Regions from separate parts of the Homo sapiens genome. Here region 1 is linked to region 2. The links come from fine-mapping of genetic effects on gene expression. A gene starts in region 2. The other region holds a variant in brackets. All regions are shown on one strand. Distances are from middle to middle. Region 1 overlaps NUCB1 (nucleobindin 1). Region 2 holds the start of NUCB1 (nucleobindin 1).

Region 1 (10,110 bases), 27 kb after region 2:
TGGGCCTGGACTCCCAGATCTGAGGGAAGAGGGACTGGGGGCCCAGACTCCCAGATCTGAGGGAAGAGGGACTGGGGGTCCGGACTCCTGGGTCTGAGGGAGGAGGGGCTGGGGGCTGGGACCCCTGGGTGTGAGGGAGGAGGGGCTGGGACCCCTGGGTGTGAGTGAGGAGGGGCTGGGGGCTGGACCCCTGGGTGTGAGGGAGGAGGGGCTGGGGGCTGGACCCCTGGGTGTGAGGGAGGAGGGGCTGGGCCTCTGGGGTCCTGGGGGAGGAGGGGTTCGGATGTCCTGTGCCACCATTCCCTCCCTCCATTTCCAGACGATGTACCTGTCCCAGCTCCAGCCGGTGACCAGAAGGAGGTGGACACTTCAGAAAAGAAACTTCTCGAGCGGCTCCCTGAGGTTGAGGTGCCCCAGCATCTGTGATCCTCCGGGACCCCAGCCCTCAGGATTCCTGATGCTCCAAGGCGACTGATGGGCGCTGGATGAAGTGGCACAGTCAGCTTCCCTGGGGGCTGGTGTCATGTTGGGCTCCTGGGGCGGGGGCACGGCCTGGCATTTCACGCATTGCTGCCACCCCAGGTCCACCTGTCTCCACTTTCACAGCCTCCAAGTCTGTGGCTCTTCCCTTCTGTCCTCCGAGGGGCTTGCCTTCTCTCGTGTCCAGTGAGGTGCTCAGTGATCGGCTTAACTTAGAGAAGCCCGCCCCCTCCCCTTCTCCGTCTGTCCCAAGAGGGTCTGCTCTGAGCCTGCGTTCCTAGGTGGCTCGGCCTCAGCTGCCTGGGTTGTGGCCGCCCTAGCATCCTGTATGCCCACAGCTACTGGAATCCCCGCTGCTGCTCCGGGCCAAGCTTCTGGTTGATTAATGAGGGCATGGGGTGGTCCCTCAAGACCTTCCCCTACCTTTTGTGGAACCAGTGATGCCTCAAAGACAGTGTCCCCTCCACAGCTGGGTGCCAGGGGCAGGGGATCCTCAGTATAGCCGGTGAACCCTGATACCAGGAGCCTGGGCCTCCCTGAACCCCTGGCTTCCAGCCATCTCATCGCCAGCCTCCTCCTGGACCTCTTGGCCCCCAGCCCCTTCCCCACACAGCCCCAGAAGGGTCCCAGAGCTGACCCCACTCCAGGACCTAGGCCCAGCCCCTCAGCCTCATCTGGAGCCCCTGAAGACCAGTCCCACCCACCTTTCTGGCCTCATCTGACACTGCTCCGCATCCTGCTGTGTGTCCTGTTCCATGTTCCGGTTCCATCCAAATACACTTTCTGGAACAAATGCATGGCTCCATGCCTGTGTATCTGGACTGGTCCCTCCAAAACGCTATTGCCACGTCACCTGCCGGAGTCCTCATCTTTGAAGACTGGATTCAAGCATCACTTCTGAGAGGCTCAATCCTGGTATTTTTCCATCTGCCCCTGATGAGTCTGCAGCCTTCACTCAGGGTCCCTTCAGCCACAAGGACAGAAAACCCAAACCTGGGATTAAGCAATTTTTTTTTTTTTTTTTTTTGAGATGGAGTCTTACTCTGTCACCCAGGCTGGAGGGCAGTGGTGTAATCTCAGCTCACTGCAACCTCTGCCTTTTGGGATCAAGCGATTCTCCTGCCTCCGCCTCCCGAGTAGCTGGGATTACAGCTGCCTGCCACCACGCCCGGCCTTCTAATTTTTGCATTGTTTTAGTAGTGATGGGGGTTTCACCATATTGGCCAGGCTGGTCTTGAACTCCTGACATCATGATCTGCCCACCTTAGCCTCCCAAAGTGCTGGGATTACAGGAGTGAGCCACTGCACCTGGCCGGGATTAAGCAACTTTTAAAAGATGAATTTGGCCAGGTGCTGTGGCTCACGCCTGTAATCCCAACACTTCGAAAGGCCAAGATAGGGGGGATCACTTGAGGCCAGGAGTTCAAGACCAGCCTGGTCAACATGGCAAAACCCCATCTCTACTAAAAATACAAAGATGAGCCGGGTGTGGTGGTGGGCACTTGTAATCCCAGCTACTCGGGAGGCTGAGGCAAGAGAATTGCTTGATCCTGGGAGGCGGAGGTTGCAGCGAGCCAAGATTGCACCACTGCACTCCAACCGGAGTACCAGAGCAAGATTCCATCTCAAAAAAAAAAAAAAGAATGTACCAGGTATGGTGGCTCCACCTGTAGTCCCAGCACTTTAGAAGGCAGAGGCGGATAGATCACGAGGTCAGGAGATGGAGACCATCCCGGCTAACACGGTGAAACCCTTTCTCTACTAAAAATACTAAAAAAATTAGCTGGGCGTGGTGGCAGGCACCTGTAGTCCCAGCTACTCAGGAGGCTGAGGCAGGAGAATTGCTTGAACCCAGGAGGCAGAGGTTGCAGTGAGCCGAGATCATGCCACTGCACTCCAGCCTGGGTGACAGAGCGAGACTCTGTCTGAAAAAAAGAAGGCTGAGGCAAGAGGATCACTTGAGCTTAGGAGTTTGAGACCAGCCTGGGCAACATAGCGAGACCCCGTCTCAGAAAAAGAAAAAAAATTAGCTGGGCATGGTAGTGTGTGCCTGTAGTCTCAGCTGCTTAGGAGGCTGGTGTGGGAGGATCCCTTGAGCCCTGGAGTTTGAGGCTGCAGTGAGCCATGATCTATCACTCCACTGCACTCCAGGCTGGGTGACAGAATGAGGCCCTGTCTCTAATAGAAAAAAGAATAAATAAAAATGAATTATGATAAAAACCAAGATGTCCCAAGGCAGGATGACTTCAGGGAACCAGGTTCTCGCATCCCCTAGCTGTGCCAAGGATAGGTTTGGGGGCTGGACCCCCCCTCATGGTCCCAAGGTAGCTGCAGCTGCTCCAGATGTCACCAACAGCCAGTGAAGGAAGAGGCCGCATTCTGTTCTGGGCATTGTTAAGTGGGAGAAAATCTGTCCCCAGAGTTCCCTCTCCTTTCAGCCCTCTCCTCATGTTCCCTTATATCCCACTGGCTGTGAGGCACAGGTCAGTGACAGCTGCAGACAGATCCACCAAGCTGGCATCCACCAGTGGTGATTTCATCCTCACCTGGGATGGGGATGCTTTCCTTGGACCAAGTTGGGGTCTGGTAAAAAGCAAGCGGGGAATATTTGTTTTTGTTTTGTTTTGTTTTTGGAGACAGAGTCTTGCTCTGTCTCCCAGGCTGGAGTACGATGACGCGATCTCGGTTTACTGCAACCTCTGCCTCCTGGGTTCAAGCGATTCTCCTGCCTCAGTCTCCTGAGTAGCTGGGATTACAGGTGCCCAGCACACACCCGGCTAATTTTTCTGTATTTTTAGTAGAGATGGGGCTTTCACCATGTTGGTCAGGCTGGTCTTGAGAACTCCTGACCTCAGGTGATCCCCCCGCCTCGGCCTCCCACAGTGTTGGGATTACAGGCCTGAGCCACCACGCCCGGCCAGGAGTATTTGTTTAAATGAAATTCTGGCCAGGCACAGTGGTTCATGCCTATAAGCTCAGCACTTTGGAGGCCAGGGATGGGCAGGGTGGGGG[G/T]TTTCAGGAGAGGATGACAGGAGGATGACTCAAGCTCAGAGCTCAAGACCAGCCTGAGCAACATAGCAAGACCTCATCTCTAAAAAAAAAAAAAAAAAAAAAAAAAAAATTAGCCGGGTGTTGTGGCATGCACCTGTGGTCCCAGCTACTCAGGAGGCTTAAGGACAGAAGAATCGCTTGGCCACAGAAGGTTAAGGCTACAGTGAGCCATGACCACGCCACTGCACTCCAGCCTGGGAGACAGGGCAAGACCCTTTCTCGAGAAAAATAAATAGGCCGGGCACAGTGGCTGATGCCTATAATCCCAACGCTTCAGGAGGCCAAGGAGGAAGGATCCTTTGAGCCCAGGAGTTTGAGGCCAACCTGGGCAATATAGGGAGACCCCATCTCTATGTAAAAAAATAAATAAATAGGGCCAGGCGCAGTCACTCACAACTATAATCCCAGCACTTTGGGAGGCTGATGTGGGCGGATCACTTGAGGGCAGGAATTCAAGCCCAGCCTGGGCAACGTGAAACCCCGTCTCTACAAAAAAATACCAAAATTAGCCGGGCGTGGTGGTGTACACCTGTAATCCCAGCTACTCAGGGAGGCTGAGGCACAAGAATCACTTGAACCTGGGAGGCAGAGGTTGCAGTGAGCCAAGATCACACTACTGTACTCCAGCCTGGGTGACAGAGCAAGACTCCATCTCAAGAAAAAAAAAAAAATTAGCTGGGTGTGGTGGCACATGCCTGTAGTCCCAGCTACTTGGGAGGCTGAGGTGAAAGGATCGCTTGGGCCTGGGAAGCGGTGATTGCAACGCTGCACATCAGCCTGGGTGACCAAGCGGGACTCTGTCTCAGAACAAAACAAAACAAAAATACATATTCCCAGATCCTGGAATGTCCTGGGAAGCTATATGTGTGTCATGCCCTCCCAGCTGCACCTGAACAATGAGCATAGCAAACATCAGCTGCAGCCTCTCTTTGCCTCTCTCAGAAAATGAGGGGAGTTGAGCTTCAGTGACCCAATCTGGAAAACGGGCCTAAATGGTGTTCTTTGAAAGGTTCATATAGGCAAAGCGGTCCCCAAATGCCGAAGGAGCCAAGAAACCAAAGAATGAGGCCGACCCATCTAGTTTGTCAATACAGGGTGGTTTATTAGGGGGAAACTTAGAGTGTGGTCTTCGCCAGGCATGGTGGCTTATGCCTGGAATCCCAGCACTTTGGGAGGCCGAGGCAGGTGGCTCACTTGGGGTCAGGAGTTCGAGACCAGCCTGACTGACATGGTGAAACTTGTCTCCACTAAAAATACAAAAATTAGCCAGGTGTGGTGGTGGGCGCCTGTAATCCCAGCTACTGGAGAGGTTGAGGCAGGAGAATCACTTGAACCCGGGAGGTGGAGACTGCAGTGAGCCGAGCTCACGCCACTGCACTCCAGCCTGGGCTACAAAGCAAGACCCTGTCTGGAAAAAAAAAAAAAAGAAGTGTGGTCTTGGGCAGCAGCAAGACAGATAGATCACACCCTGCAACCCCCAGACACAGGGCTTCTATCTCGAGGAAAGCATATCTGTGCTCTGGAAGAAACGCGTAGGTGGCTATGGGCGATACATCTTGTGATGGATGTGACAACATCAAGGCTTGTTCTGGAGGAAAGGCTGGTAAGTACGTGTTTCTACATAAAGAGTAACACATCCGTTAGACATGTTGGAGGCATTCCCAGTTTCGGGTTAGTCAGAAGTCACACGGCAGGCTGGGTGCAGTGGCTCATGCCTATAATGCCAGCATTTTGGGAGGCTGAGGCAGGAAGACCGTTCGAGCCCAAGAGTTTGAAACCAGCCTGAGCAACATAGTGAAACCCCGTCTCTTTTTTTTTTTTTTTGAGACAGAGTCTCACTCTTGTTGCCGGTGGCTCGATCTCGGCTCACTGCAACCTCCGCCTCCCGGGTTCAAGTGATTCTCCTGCCTCAGCCTCCTGAGTAACTGGGATTACAGGCGCCCACCACGCCCAGCTAATTTTTGTATTTTTAGTAGAGACAGGGTTTCGCCATGTTGGCCAGGCCGGTCTCAAACTCCTGTCCTCAGGTGATCTGCCCTCCTCTGCCTCCCAAAGTGCTGGGATTATAGGCATGAGCCACCACGCCCAGCCAACCCTGTTTCTTTCTTTTTCTTTTTTTTTTTTTTTTGATACGGAGTCTTGCTGTGTCCCCCAGGCTGGAGTGCAATGGCACAGTCTCGGCTCACTGCAACCTCCACCTCCCGGGTTCAAGCAATTCTCCTGCCTCAGCCTCCCAAGTAGCTGAGATTACAAACCCCGTCTCTTAAAAAAGGAAAAAAATCACATGGCAGAGTAGCATTTTAAAATAAAGTCACGAGGCTGGGCGCGGTGGCTCACGCCTGTAATCTCAGCACTTTGGGATGCTGAGGCAGGCGAATCACCCGAGGTCAGGAGTCTGAGACCAGCCTGACCTACGTTGAGAAACCCCGTCTCTACTGAAAATACAAAATTACCCGGGCCTGGTGGCGCATGCCTGTAATCCCAGCTGCTCAGGAGGCTGAGGCAGGAGAATCGCTTGAACCCAGGAGGTGGAGGTTGCGGTGAGCCGAGATCACGCCATTGCACTCCAGCCTGGACAACAAAAGCAAAACTCCGTCTTAAAAAATAAATAAATAAATAACATTAAACTACGTCACTCAGCCTGTGAACAATGGCTCACGCTTATAACCCAGCAATTTGGGAGGCCGCAGCAGGTGGATCACTTGAGGTCACGAGTTCGAGACCAGCCCGGCCAACATGGTAAAACCGCATTTCTACTAAAAATACAAAATTAGCTGGGTGTGGTGATGGGCGCCTGTAATCCCAGCTACTCATGAGGCAGGAGAATCGCTTGAACCCAGGAGGCGGAAGTTGCAGTGAGCTGAAATTGTGTCACTGCACTCCAGCCTGGGTGACAGAGCAAGACTCCGTCCAAAAAAAAAAAAAAAAAAAAAGGGACCATGTTCTAGTGTAGGGGTAAGTGGATTGTTTTGGCCCCAACCCCAAGAGGATCAAGGGAGACCACTGCAGCTGCCCGAGAAATTCTTGCCCTCTGACAAGAAACACCCTATCCAGTCTGGGGAATTTGCCAGTCCAACCCCTCCCCTTGGCTCAAGATTCTGGGAAATCCTAAATAGTGTTTACCATTGGCCTTTTATCAGCTCCAGTATAAATGCGTCTGGCCAGACTTGCTTTACAACTATGCATAATGGATAGTTGGGCCAGGCTTGGTGGCTCATGCCTAGTGCTTTGGGAGGCCGAGGTGGGAGGATCACTTCAGCCCAAGAGTTGGAGGCCAGCCTAGGCAACATGGTGAGACACCATCTCTACAAAAAAAAATTTTATTTTCTGTTTTTTTTTTGAGACGGAGTGTGGCGCTGTCACCCAGGCTGGAGCAACAGAGCCAGACTTTGTCTCAAATAAATAAATAAATAAATAAAACCTGCAAAAAAATTTTTTTAAATGCCATTTTTCTTTCTTTCTTTCTTTCTTTTTTTTTTTGAGGCAGAGTCTTGCTGTGTCACCCAGGCTGGAGTGCAGTGGCGTGATCTCGGCTCACTGCAAGCTCTGCCTCCCGGGTTCACGCCATCCTCCTGCCTCAGCCTCCTGAGTAGCTGGGACTACAGGCGCCCGCCACCATGCCCGGCTAATTTTTTGTATTTTTAGTAGAGATGGGGTTTCACTGTGTTAGCCAGGATGGTCTTGATCTCCTGTCCTCGTGATCCGACCACCTCGGCCTCCCAAAGTGCTGGGATTACAAGCGTAAGCCACCGCGCCTGGCCATTTTTCTTTTTAATCAATCCTGCCACTTGAAGATTATATGGTAAGGGAAATCTGCAGTCTATACACAATACTGAGTTGCTCCAAGCCCTTGAGGATTGTGAGGGACCCAGTGTTCTAATTCTTGCTAGAGTGTCTACCTCCATGTTACCAGAGGCGAGTCTGACCGGGTACTGACATGTGATATACCATTAAGTGTGCAGTGGGTTCTTTTAGCCTTTCCCAAATGTCTTTCCACATGGCAGCGCCCCACAGCATTTTCTTTTTCTTCTTTTTTCTTTTTCTTTTTTTTTTTTTTCTTTTTTTTCCTGGGCAACAGAGTCTCACTCTGTTGCCCGGGCTAGAGTGCAGTGGCGTGATCTCGGCTCACTGCAAGCTCTGCCTCCTGGGTTCAAGCGATTCCAGTGCCTCAGCCTCCCAAGTAGCTGGGATTACAGGTGCACACCACCACGCCCAGCTAATTTTTGTATTTTTAGTAGAGATGGGGTTTCACCCTGTTGGCCAGGCTGGTCTCAAACTCTTGACCTCAGGTGATCCGCCCGCCTCGGCCTCCCAAAGTGCTGGGATTACAGGCGTGAGCCACTACGCCCGCCCTCTTTTTTCTTTTTTGAGACAGAGTCTCACTCTGTTGCCCAGGCTGGAGTACAGAGGTGCCATCATAGCTTACTGCAGCCTCAACCTTCCCAGCTCAAGCGATCCTCCCGCTTCAGCCTCCCTAGTAGCTGGGAATACAGATGCACACCACCACACCTGGCTAATTTTTTGCAGGTTGGTCTCGAACTCTTGGGCTCAAGAGATCTGCCCGCCACAGTCTCCCAAAGTGCTGGGATTACAGGCATGTGCCACCGTGCCCGGCATATTTTCTTTTCAGTGTTTACCTTTTTGCCTCCTCTGAGGTGCTGGAGTGCAGCAATAAGAAAGTAATAATTTTAGGCCGGGCGCAGTGGCTCACGCCTGTAATCCCAGCACTTTGGGAGGCCGAGGAGGGCGGATCACGAGGTCAGGAGATCAAGACCATCCTGGCTAACACAGTGAAACCCTGTCTCTACTAAAAATACAAAAAATTAGCCAGGCGTGGTGGTGGGCGCCTGTAGTCCCAGTTACTTGGGAGGCTGAGGCAGGAGAATGGCGTGAACCCGGGAGGCAGAGCTTGCAGTGAGCTGAGATCGAACCACTGCACTCCAGCCTGGGTGACAGAGCAAACCTTCATCTCAAAAAAAAAATATATATATATATTATATATATATATTTTTTTTTTTAGACCGGGTCTTCCTCTGTTGCCCAGGCTGGGGTGCAGTGGTGTGATCTCGGCTCACTGTAACCTCTGCCTCCCAGGCTCACGCCACTCTCCTGCCTCAGCCTCCAGACTACAGGTGCCCGCCACCACGCCTGGCTAATTTTTTGTATTTTTAGTAGAGATGGGGTTTCACCGTGTTAGCCAGGATGGTCTTGATCTCCTGACCTGGTGATCCACCCATCTTGGCCTCCCAAAGTGCTGGGATTACAGGTGTGAGCCACTGTGCCTGGCCGCTGAGTAGTATTTTGTTGAATCCACTGGCAGCTTAAAGGACATTTGGGCTTGAGCTATGTACAGCTGCTAACACCTGTGCACTGGTTTGTGTGCAAACATGTTATTTTTTCTTTCTAGGACAAATACCTGGGAGTATCAAAATTATTTTTTGATATTTATTATTAAATGATTTTTTCTTTTTCTTCATAGTAATGATATTGTGTCCTATGTGGATTTCCCTCCCCCTAAACCTTTTTTTTTTTTTTTTTTTTTTTTTGAGACAGAGTCTCTCTCTGTCACCCGGGCTGGAGAGCAGTGGTGCGATCTTGGCTCACTGCAACCTCCTCCTCCCAGGTTCAAGCAATTTACCTGCCTCAGCCTCCCAAGAAGCTGGGATTGCAGGCGTCCGCCACCATGCTTGGCTAATTATTTTGTATTTTTAGTAGAGATGGGGGTTTCACCATGTTTGCCAGGCTGGTTTCGAACTCCTGACCTTAAGTGATCCGCCCACCACGGCCTCCCAAAGTGCTAGGATTACAGGCATGAGCCACTATGCCCTGCCCCCTCCCCCCACTTTTTTTTTTTGGTAGAGATGGGGTCTTGCTTTGTTGCCCAGGCTGGTCTCAAAGTCCTGGCTTCAAGCATTCCTCCCATTTGGGCCTCCCACAGTACTGGGATTACAGGCGTGAACCACCGTGCCTGGTCCCATTTGTGTTTCTATTCAGCAGTTTGTGTAAACTTGAAGTCTGTGAATCCATGTGTGACACTCAGGTCTTAATTATTGTCTACCAAGTAAGAGAAAGTGACAATATCCTGCCCTGTGTGAAGCTGGCCAGCCAGTTAGGAATTATCATGTCCCAACCAGCCTGGGAAACTTGGCAAGACCCTGCCTTGATAAAAAGTTTAAAAATCGACTGGACACAGTGTCTCATACCTATAATCCCAGCACTTTGGGAGGCTGAGGCAGGAGGATTGCTTGAGCCCAGGAATTGGAGACCAGCCTGGACAACAAAGTGAGACCTTTTCTGTACAAAAAATTGCTGGGCATGGTGGCTCATGCAGGTAATCTCAGCACTTTGGGAGGCCAAGGCAGGCGGATCACCTGAGGTCAGGAATTCGAGGCCAGCCTGGCCAACACAGTGAAACCCCATCTCTAGTAAAAATACAAAAATTAGTCGGGCGTGGTAGTGGGCGCCTGTCATCCCAGCTACTCGGGAGGCTGAGGTAGGAGAATTGCTTGAAACTGGGAGGTGGAGGTTGCAGTGAGCCAAGATTATGCCACTGCATGATCACCCCAGCCTGGATGACAG
Region 2 (9,976 bases):
ATTGAGGCACCAGACTCCTGGGTTTTAGTGGGGACGGAGTTCTGGGGTCTAGGAGGTCGGTGGACTCGCAAATACCTGCTTCTGTCCGCGGTGTCGGGAGGCCGCGCTCGCCCCTGCCGTCTCCACCACAGCTCACGGTGCCCAGGGCACTGTGGATGCCAGAGGGCAGATGTGCCTCTGACACTTTCTTCCGGAGGAAAGGGTTCCCAAGGCCTGGGAGAAGGTTCAGCGAGCCCATGAAAACGATCTACAAATTCCGGTCCTCAACCAAAATCCACCCCGTCACTGGGCTCCCAAATATCACCCCCGCCAGGCGCCGTGGCTCACGCCTGTAATCCCAGCACTTTGGGAGGCCGAGGCAGGCGGATCACCTGAGGTCGGGAGTTCGAGACCAGCCTGACCAACATGGAGAAACACCGTCTCTACTAAAAACACAAAATTAGCCGGGCTTGGTGGCGCATGCCTGTAATCACAGCTACTCGGGAGGCTGAGGCAGGAGAATCGCTTGAACCCGGGAGACGGAGGTTGCGGTGAGCCGATATCCTGCCATTGTACTCCAGCTTTGGCAACAAGAGCTAAACTCCGTCTCAAAAAAGAAAAAAAAATCACCCTGTTTCGCGGACCGCCCAAACCTTGAGACCCAGGTCCCAAACTGCATCCTAAGCCTCAAACAAGCACAGCCCTGCCGCTGGATTGTTGCGGGCTCCGCACGTAAAGAATCTCGCGCCAGGCTCTCGTAATGAGACCGCGCCCCGCCCCGGACCCCTAGACCCCGTCTCCGCAATCCCGGGTTTGGGGTGGGGGTCCCGGCTTTCCCAGGCTCCACCACCGAGCTCTGCCAAGCCCAATCATCACATTCTCTTGCCCCTTTCCCCTGCTAGTTGTACCATGCCCCGCCCCTGCGCTCTGTAGCCCTGCCCCGAACCCCTCCCTCACAGGTCCTGCCGCGGGGGGCCCCCACAAGCCTCTCCCCTGGGCGCCCACAGGCCCTGTTCTAAAGCTCTCCTGGGCCAAGGCCCGCCCCCATCCACTGCCAAGTCCCCACCCTAAGGCTCCACCCCTTCATCCACTAGGCCCCGCCCACAGACTCCCACAGGCCCCTCCCCTCCAGGCGAACGCCCCCAGGGGTCTTTGGTCACCTCTGTCACCTAAAAGGCGCTCCTCCCGCAGACAAGAGCGCCAAAGCCACGGGGAAGCGTCAGGATTGGCCTGAACCATGAGGAGCTCCTGGCGCTTCTGTCGCTGCTTCTTTTCAAACAGCCGCCGCTGGGGAGATGGGAGAGGTGGGTGTCCGGGACAGGAACCAGATGGGAAGACAGAAGTGAGGTGGGGCCTGGGGCAAGGGCTCGCATCGGCGCGAGAGTTCGTGAACCCCTTCCTCCACTGGGGCCCACACGTCCAGGCCCTCAGTTCTTCAGCAGCTCCTCCCTTATTCCACCGTTGGACTCAGATCCAAGAGTCCTGACACCCTGTCCTCTCATCCCCCAGGACCCAGGAGTCCTGCCTTCTAGAAGCCTTGTTCCTTAGAAATTCATCACAAGGGTTTGTTTGCTTCTTTAGAACCCCCAATTCCTATTTTCTTTTCTTTTTCCTTTCTTACTTTTTTTTTTTCTTTTTGAGACAGAGTCTGGCTCTATCGCCCAGGCTGGAGTGCAGTACCACGATCTCCGCTCACTGCAGCCTCCGCCTCCCGGATTCAAACGATTCTCCTGCCTCAGCCTCCCGAGTAGCTGGGATTACAGGCGCCTGCCACCACACCTGGCTAATTTTTTGTGTGTTAGTAGAGACGGGGTTTCGCCGTGTTGGCCAGGCTTGTCTTGAACTCCTGACCTCAAGTGATCCGCCCACCTCAGCATCCCAAAGTGCTGTGATTACAGCCGTGAGCTGCCCTGCCCGGCCCCAAATTCCTATTTTCTCATTTCTCAGTGGGAAAACTCAAGGATGAGAGACAGCCAACACGGGCTGGGAGTCCTAGAGCAAGACCTGGTGGAGAGGCCCCTGGGGAGGCACAGAAGGCGGAAGAGTTGGAGTGGTGAGATTCCTGGGCACAATACCTGCTGTTCCAGCTTCTGCAGCCTCATAGCAGCGAGCTCATGCCCCAGGATGCTGAGAGAGACACAGGCCCATGGTGACAGTGCACAGGGAACCTCGGTTGCCCAAGAGAGTCCCTCCTTCCCCCATCCTGCCCCTATCTCAGCTTGGGTTCTGGGCACCTGTGAGGTCACAGGAGGTGCAGAACCTGAGCCTGCTCCACCAGTTATAGGGCCCTTTCTCCTGGCACTGGCCCACAGAAGCCGGGACCCAGAGATCCCAGGTCCCTCCTGTCTCAGGATTCAGGAGTCTGGGGCCCCCAACCCCTTCTCTTTCAGACCCAGAAGTCTGCACCCTAGCCCCATCCCTTCAGGACACAGGAGTCCAGGTCCCCAGCCCCTTCCTGCAAGGCCGATGGTGCTGAACCTGCAAACATGGTTATGAAGCCAGAGCCGAGTGCACGGGGTCCCCAGCCCTTTCCACCTCCACCCCTACCCATCTGTTTCCCTACTCACTCTCTCATCAATGTGTCATTATCCTGAGACATTCTGCAGAAGCAAGAATGAGGAGTCAGGATCAGAACCAACATCCCAATGGATCCTGCCCACCAGCACCTAATCTTTAGCCTTATTTATTTATTTATTTATTTATTTATTTATGTATTTAGAGACAGCTGAGCCTCGCTCTGTCGCCCAGGCTGCAGTGCAGTGGCGCCATCTCGGCCACTGCAACCTCCACCTCCTGGGTTCAAGCGATTCTCCTGCCTCAGCCTCCCGAGTAGCTGGGACTACAGGCGTCCGCTATTCTGCCTAATTTTTTTGTATTTTAGTAGATACCGGTTTTCACTATGTTGGCCAGGCTGGTGCCGGACTCCTGACCTCAGGTGATCTGCCCGCCTTGGCCTTCCAAAGTGCTAGGATTACAGGCATGAGCCACAGTGCCCGGCCTGATCCTTACCTTTAAATTTGCTTCCGGACCCAGGCAGCCCGAATCCCAGCACCCACTCCTGTCGGGATCTAGTAGCCTGTTTCCAGCTTCCCACGGGGGTCCGCAAGTCCGCTTCTCTCTCCCCCAAATATCTAATTCTCCAGCACCCAGGCATCAGAACTCAGGACTGTGCACTTCAAACACCCAGCCCCCAGCGGCCTAGAACTCCACTGCCCACCTGCCTGGGATCCGGGAGACTTGTTCTCCTCACCAGGTGCCTGGAGAGGCTGCTCACATTGATGCCTCGGTACCTTGCCTCTCTGGCCAATCTCTAAACATACCTGATCCTCTCTTTGGAAGCTGGGGACCTAATCTCGGGATATCTGCGAAATAGGGAGGAGAAGAAAGACGGCTCAGAGGGAGGGAGGATTCCCTCTGGGACCTGAACTGGTCCACTCCCTTCTGACCCTCCACTCTCCACTTCCAACAAAGTAACGAACTCGGTCACTGATGCAGCCAGGCAACCCTGCTCCGGGGGTTCTGAACACGAATGCCGTGTGGGGGTTCCTTAAAGAGACCAGAGACCGGCCCGGCGCGGTGGCTCACGCCTGTAATCCCAGCACTTTGGGAGGCCGAGGCGGGCGGATCACGGGGTCAGGAGATCTAGACCATCCTGGCTAACATGGTGAATCCCCGTCTCTACTAAAAAAAAATATATATATATACACAAAAAAATTAGCCGGGCGTTGTGGCGGGCGGGCGCCTGTAGTCCCAGCTACTCGGGAGGCTGAGGCAGGAGAATGGCGTGAACCCGGGAGGCGGAGCTCGCAGTGAGCTGAGATCGCGCCACTGCACTCCAGCCTGTGTGACAGAGGTAGACACCGTCTCAAAAAAAAAAAAAAAAAGAGAGAGAGAGAGCGGGAGACCAGAGACCTCGCGGCCTCACTGTACACATCTCGCTTACAAGAAACTTAAAAGAGGCGGGGCGCAGTGGCTCACGCCTGTAATCCCAGCACTTTGGGAGGCGGAGACGGGGAGGCAAGATTGCTTGAGTCCAGGAGATCCAGATCCAGACCAGCAACACAGAGATTTTTTTTTTTTTTTGAGACGTAGTCTCACTCTGTCGCCCAGGCTGGAGTGCAGTGGCGCGATCTCGGCTCACTGCAACCTCCGCCTCCCGGGTTTAAGAGATTGTCCTGCCTCAGCTTCCTGAGTAGCTGGGATTACAGGCATGCGCAACCACGCCTGGCTAATTTGTATTTTTAGTGGAGGCGAGGTTTCTCCATGTTGGCCAGGCTGGTCTCAAACCCTTGACCTCAGGTGATCTGCCTGCCTCAGCCTCCCAAAGTGCTGGGATTACAGGAGTGAACCCCCAAGCCCGGCTTGACATCCGTCTCTTTAAAAAACAACAACAACAAAGTGTGAGAAGTGTGAAAGACAGAACGTTAAAAAAAAAAAAAGGCTAAAAAAGAATTAAAGATTTAAATATTTGTATTAAAAATTTAAAAAATATACATTAGCCAGGCATGGTAGTGTGGCCTGTGGTCCCATCTACTTGGGAGGCTGACGCGGGAGGATTGCTTGGGCCTGGGAGGTAGAGGCTGCAGTGAGAAGTGATTGCGCCACTGCACTCCAACCTGGGTGACAGAGCAAACCCTGTCTCGAATAATAAGAAGAAGAAGAAAGAAACTCATAAGAAAGGCTATGCAATTGCTACCGCGCTATAACTTCCAGGCACTTCGTGGGGCGAAAATAAATGGGAAAACTACAGCTCCCATGAGGCGAAGGGGCCACGATGCCCGCGGAAGTTATTTTTCCCCCGGCCGGCAGGGAGTTGTAGTTATCTTTGAAAGCCTTCTCTCTCTTTTGGCATAGGCGGGAAATGTGGCGTCAAGAGGCTGGGATTCCGAGAAAGAAGCGAGGCTTTCACGAAAATGCGAGCGGCTTCGGCAAGGGGCGGGGCCGCTGGACGTGGATGAAAGCTACAGAGCCAGCGTGGACCAATCAGACCTCTTTGGGGCGGGGCCTCTGTGGATAAGTGGGCGTGGTCTAGGGGGGAAGTCACCAAGAACGCACCGGAGGTCCTTGCCCGCCCTGGAAAACGCCCTCTGCGGTGAAGGAGAGGTGAGAGGCCAGGGTTCCCATACTCTTGGGTCCTAGGGAGGATGGGGGCCAGAGGGCTGGAAAACTGGGTCCCGGAGGAGGATGCACTGGGTGCCAGTACTTTAGGTCCTGGGAAAAGAGGAGGCTGGGACCCTGGACTCTTGGGTCTGGGGGAGGAGGCGGCCGAGATCCCGGATTCCTGAGTGTGAGAGAGGAGCGTGTTGGGAGCCAGGACCCCTGGGTCTGAGGGCCCAGACTCCTGTGTCGGAGGAAGGGAAGGCCGGAGGCCTGGAATCCTGGGGCCTGGGTAACAAAATGCTTGTGTCTTGATTCTTGGAAGTGGGGGCGGCGCTGGGGGCCCGAACTCCTGGTTCCAGGGGAGGAAGAGGCTTGGGACAGACATTATGCATTATCCAGCCCTCCATCCCCCACAGACCACACTGCCATGCCTCCCTCTGGGCCCCGAGGAACCCTCCTTCTGTTGCCGCTGCTGCTGCTGCTCCTGCTTCGCGCCGTGCTGGCTGTCCCCCTGGAGCGAGGGGCGCCCAACAAGGAGGAGACCCCTGCGACTGAGAGTCCCGTGAGTGGCCCTGCCCTGCTATCCAGCCAGGTGTTTGCAGTGGTACTACAGCTCCTGCAGACCCCGGTGCCCGTAGGGCGGATGCTCCAGTGACTTCCTGGCCCTACAGTTGTAGCTTGTTTTTTGCCCACCATTCCTCCCAGCAGCAGGGGTTTGACTTGGTGAAAAACTGGAGGTCCCTGACTCTGAGGTGTGGAAAATCTGCATCACGCCCCAACTAAACGTCTGTTTTTTTAAGATTCTCTCCACCCAAGAAGGAATTTGAAAACAAACAAACAAAACTACATTTCCCAGTAGCACCATGTTGCTAGTTCCCAGTAGCAGTTGATGTTGGCTAGCTGGGGTATTCTGACTTCATGGTGCTCTTGGGAGTTGTAGTTTAAATTACAGAAGGGCGGGTGAACTGCTTGTTTATTAATTCCTACATGTGTTTATCAAACCCAATAAAAGCTTTGGTCTTAAGGGATTTGGAACTTTGGAGATCCTGAAGGTCAGTGAGTGTCTTGTGGTCCGAATCTTCCTATAGCTCCCCATAAGGATAGGCTGGTCAGGCCAGGCGCAGTGGCTCATGCCTGTAATCCTAGCACTTTGGGAGGCCGAGACAGGCGGATCACTTGAGGTCAGGAGTTCAAGACCAGCCTGGCCAACATGGCAAAACCCCATCTCTACCAAAAATGCAGAAATTAGCTGGGCGTGGTGGCTCACGCCTATAATCCCAGCTACTCTGGGAGGCTGAGGCACGAATTCTCGTGCTGGAACCAAGAGAGGTGGAGGTTGCAGTGAGCCAAGGTCACGCCATTGCACTCCAGCCTGGGCAACAGAGCTGAGACTCTGTTTTCTGAGACTGTCTCAAAAAACAAAGAATGGGCTAGTCATTACCCCCTGGAACGGATCATTGCATGTTCCTGGTCCCCACGCTGCAAGTTAGGCCTCTATTCTGTGAAATCCTTGCAGACCCAGGAAGGCTTTGTTGAGTCCCATTTCTTTTCTTCCATTCCACATGTTTCCTGAGCACCTTCTATGAGCCGGGCATAGTGTTGCCTATGTGTTGCATAGTTGTTAGGGCCCAGCCATGTGCATGCCCCATGCCCATGGACTATCCCTGCTCACTGGGAGATGGAAGACAAAGGGCAGGGCTCTATGAGAGTGAACACCAGGGGTGACAGTCAGGGAGGAAGGGAGGCGTGAGTTGAGTTCTTTCTTTCTTTCTCGCTCTGTCACCAGGCTGGAGTGCAGTGGTGCAATCTTGGCTCACTGCAACCTCTGCCTCCCAGGTTCAGGTGATTCTCCTGCCTCAGCCTCCCGAGTAGCTGGGACTACAGGCGCACACCACCACGCCCATCTAATTTTTGTATTTTTAGTAGAGACGGAGTTTCACCATGTTGGCCAGGATGGTCTCGATCTCTTGACCTCTTGATCTGCCTGCCTCGGCCTCCCAAAGTGGTGGGATTACAGGCATGAGCCACCTCATTTTTTCTTTTCCTTTTTCTTTTTTTTTTTTTTTTTTATTTTTGCTGTGTCACCCAAGCTGGAGTGCAGTGGTGCAATCACTGCAATCTCCATCTCCCAGACTCAAGCGATCCTCCTGCCTCAGCCTCTGGAGTAGCTGGGACTGCAGGCATGTGCCACCATGCCTAGCTAATTTTTTTTGTATTTTTGATAGAGACAGGGTGTCATTATACTGCCCAGGCTAGTCTCGAACTCCTGAGTTCAAGTGATTTGCCCGCCTCGGCCTCCCAAAGTGCTGGGATAATAGGTGTGAGCCACTGAGTTCTGAACTGGAGAGATATGTTAAGTCAAGAGCAAGGAAGAGAGGAAGTGAGGGGAAGAGCATTCCAGGCAGAGGGAACAGCATGAGCAAAGGCCACTTGGTAGGAGAAAGCAGAGCAAGTTGAGGACGTCAAGGAGGCTGCTGTGGCTGGAGCAGGGAGAGTGAGAGGGAGGGGAGAGGGGGATTATGTGGATCATGTGGGATCTTGTGAGACTAGGTAAAGAGGTAAAGAATGTATATATATATATATATGTTTAATAGACAGGGTCTTGTGCTGGTGCCCAGGCTGAAGCGCAGTGGCAGGATCATACCTCACTGCAGCCTTGAACTCCTGGGCTCAAGTGATCCTCCTACCTCAGCCTCCCAAAGCACTGGGATTACAGGCATGAGCTACCATGCCTGGCCTTCTCTCTTTTGTAATTTTATTTATTTATTTTTTCCAACTTATCTTATTTGCTTTTCACCACAACTCTGGGAGGCAGAGGATATATTGCCTATTTTATAAATAGTAAGAGCATAGAAGGCCCAGGGAGAGTAAAGTCCCACCCAGCTACGCATGACGGGGGTGGGACTAGGAGGCCTGGGACTTTTGTCTGTGTTGTTCACAGTGCCTGGCATATGATAGGGGCCTGGTGAATGTTTGTTGAATGAATGAATGCATGCATGGGCGGGTGGGTAGATGGATGGGCAGTTGGATGGATGGGCGGGTGGATGGATGGGTGGGTGGATGAGTGGATGGATGGATGGATGGGTGGTTGGATGGATGGGCGGGTGGATGGATGGGCGGGTGGATGGATGGGTGGGTGGATGAGTGGATGGATGGATGGGTGGGTGGATGGATCGATGGGTGGGTGGATGGATGGATGAGTGGATGGATGGGCGGGTGGATGGATGGGTGGGTGGATGAGTGGATGGATGGATGGACGGGTGGTTGGATGGATGGGCGGGTGGATGGATGGGTGGGTGGATGAGTGGATGGATGGATGGGTGGGTGGATGGATGGATGGGTGGGTGGATGGATGGATGAGTGGATGGATGGGCGGGTGGATGGATGGGTGGGTGGATGAGTGGATGGATGGATGGATAGATGGATGGATGGATGGATAGGTGGGTGGATGGATGGGCAGGTGGATGAGTGGATGGATGGATGGATGAGTGGATGGATGGATGGATGGATGGATGGGTGGGTGGATGGATGGATGGGTGGATGGATGGATGGATGGGTGGGTGGGTGGATGGATGGATGAGTGGATGGATGGGTGGATGGATGGATGGATGATGGGTGGATAGATGGGTGGGTAGGATGTATGTATGGATGGGTGGGTGGGATGTATGGATGGATGGGTGGGTGGATGCATGGATGAATGGGTGGATGCATGGATGGATGGATGGTTGGATGGATGGATAAAAGTATGATTCACAGCTTCCCAACAAGTCATGTCCACTCTGAGCACCCACTCTGGGCAGTATTGGGCTGGGTGTTCACTGATGTGATTTTCATTTCATCTTTGCTGCATATGTGGGAAAAGGTAAAAACTGAGTCCCTTGTCAGCTGCCCCAGGGAGCAGGCCATAGCAGTAACAGGAGTGAGGGTGGGGATGGGGATGGGAGCAGGGGCTGCTATGTCTGTCCTTGTTGCCTCAGGACACAGGCCTGTACTACCACCGGTACCTCCAGGAGGTCATCGATGTACTGGAGACGGATGGGCATTTCCGAGAGAAGCTGCAGGCTGCCAATGCGGAGGACATCAAGGTGCGGCTGGGGGAGTGGGGGCTGTGGGAGGGGTACGTGCTGGGAGGGCAGAGTTCAGGGGAGGACTGGTTTCTTTTTTTTTTTTTTTGAGACGGAGTCTTGCTCTGTCACCCAGGCTGGAGTGCGATGGTGCGATCTCAGCTCACTGCACCTCCACCCCGCAGGTTCAAGCAGTTCTCCTGCCTCAACCTCCCAAGTAGCTGGGATTACAGGCGTACACCACCATGCCTGACTAATTTTTGTATTTTTAGTAGAGACGGGGTTTCACCATGTTGGCCAGGCTGGTCTCGAACTCCTGACCTCGTGATCCTCCCATCTCGGCTTCCCAAAGTGTTGGGATTACAGGCATGAGCCACCATGCCTGACCATACTGGTTTCTTCAAAGGGGCCACATGGCTCCAGCTGTGCCTGTATTTGAAAATCACCAAAGTAAGACTCAGGGAGAAGTTGCTTCTTGGGGTCACAAGCTGGGAAGAGCTTTGGGGAACACAGAATACGTGTTTAGTGCAGAGTCCCGTGGGCAGGCTTTCAGTCGCAGCTCCGCCGCTTACCAGCTATGGGGCCTCCCCTCACCGTGCCTCAGTTTCCCCACCTGTAAAATGGGAGACATCATAGAACCTGCTGCACAGTTCGGATTTGGATTTTCCAAGGGAAGGATTTTGGGGTTTGGATTTTCCAAAGGAAGATGTGTAAAGGGTTTGGAAGAGCATGGTGACACTCCTTAGCAAGTGTTGTGGGAGGGCTGCGTCAACAGAATGCTCCTATGGTGCCTTCTACAGAGGAAGAATTCAAAATAAGGGAGGTGCTGGTGT

What was found. PIP is the estimated chance that this variant, and not a neighbour inherited with it, causes the effect.
Region 1: its variant is fine-mapped to the expression of NUCB1 in esophagus mucosa (GTEx, PIP above 0.99).

Annotation. Positions count from the first base shown.
Region 1 is chr19:48,921,999-48,932,108 of GRCh38, forward strand. It overlaps NUCB1 (nucleobindin 1), which reads left to right. Exons shown (of 13, transcript NM_006184.6): 13 at 320-1,374. The coding sequence ends at 426. Among named protein-coding and RNA genes, the nearest start is that of DHDH, 6.6 kb to the right of the region's middle. RefSeq lists an enhancer at 738-1,237 and a silencer at 4,914-5,208. The variant G/T (reference allele first, on the strand shown) is at 3,493.
Region 2 is chr19:48,895,291-48,905,266 of GRCh38, forward strand. NUCB1 (nucleobindin 1) reads left to right here and starts at 5,022. Exons shown (of 13, transcript NM_006184.6): 1 at 5,022-5,082; 2 at 5,496-5,641; 3 at 9,057-9,164. The coding sequence starts at 5,507. TULP2 (TUB like protein 2) reads right to left here and starts at 3,454. Exons shown (of 13, transcript NM_003323.3): 1 at 3,300-3,454; 2 at 2,547-2,579; 3 at 2,055-2,106; 4 at 1,140-1,266; 5 at 76-213. The coding sequence starts at 2,578. RefSeq lists enhancers at 1-401, 2,849-3,664, a silencer at 828-967 and a cis regulatory region at 3,199-4,198.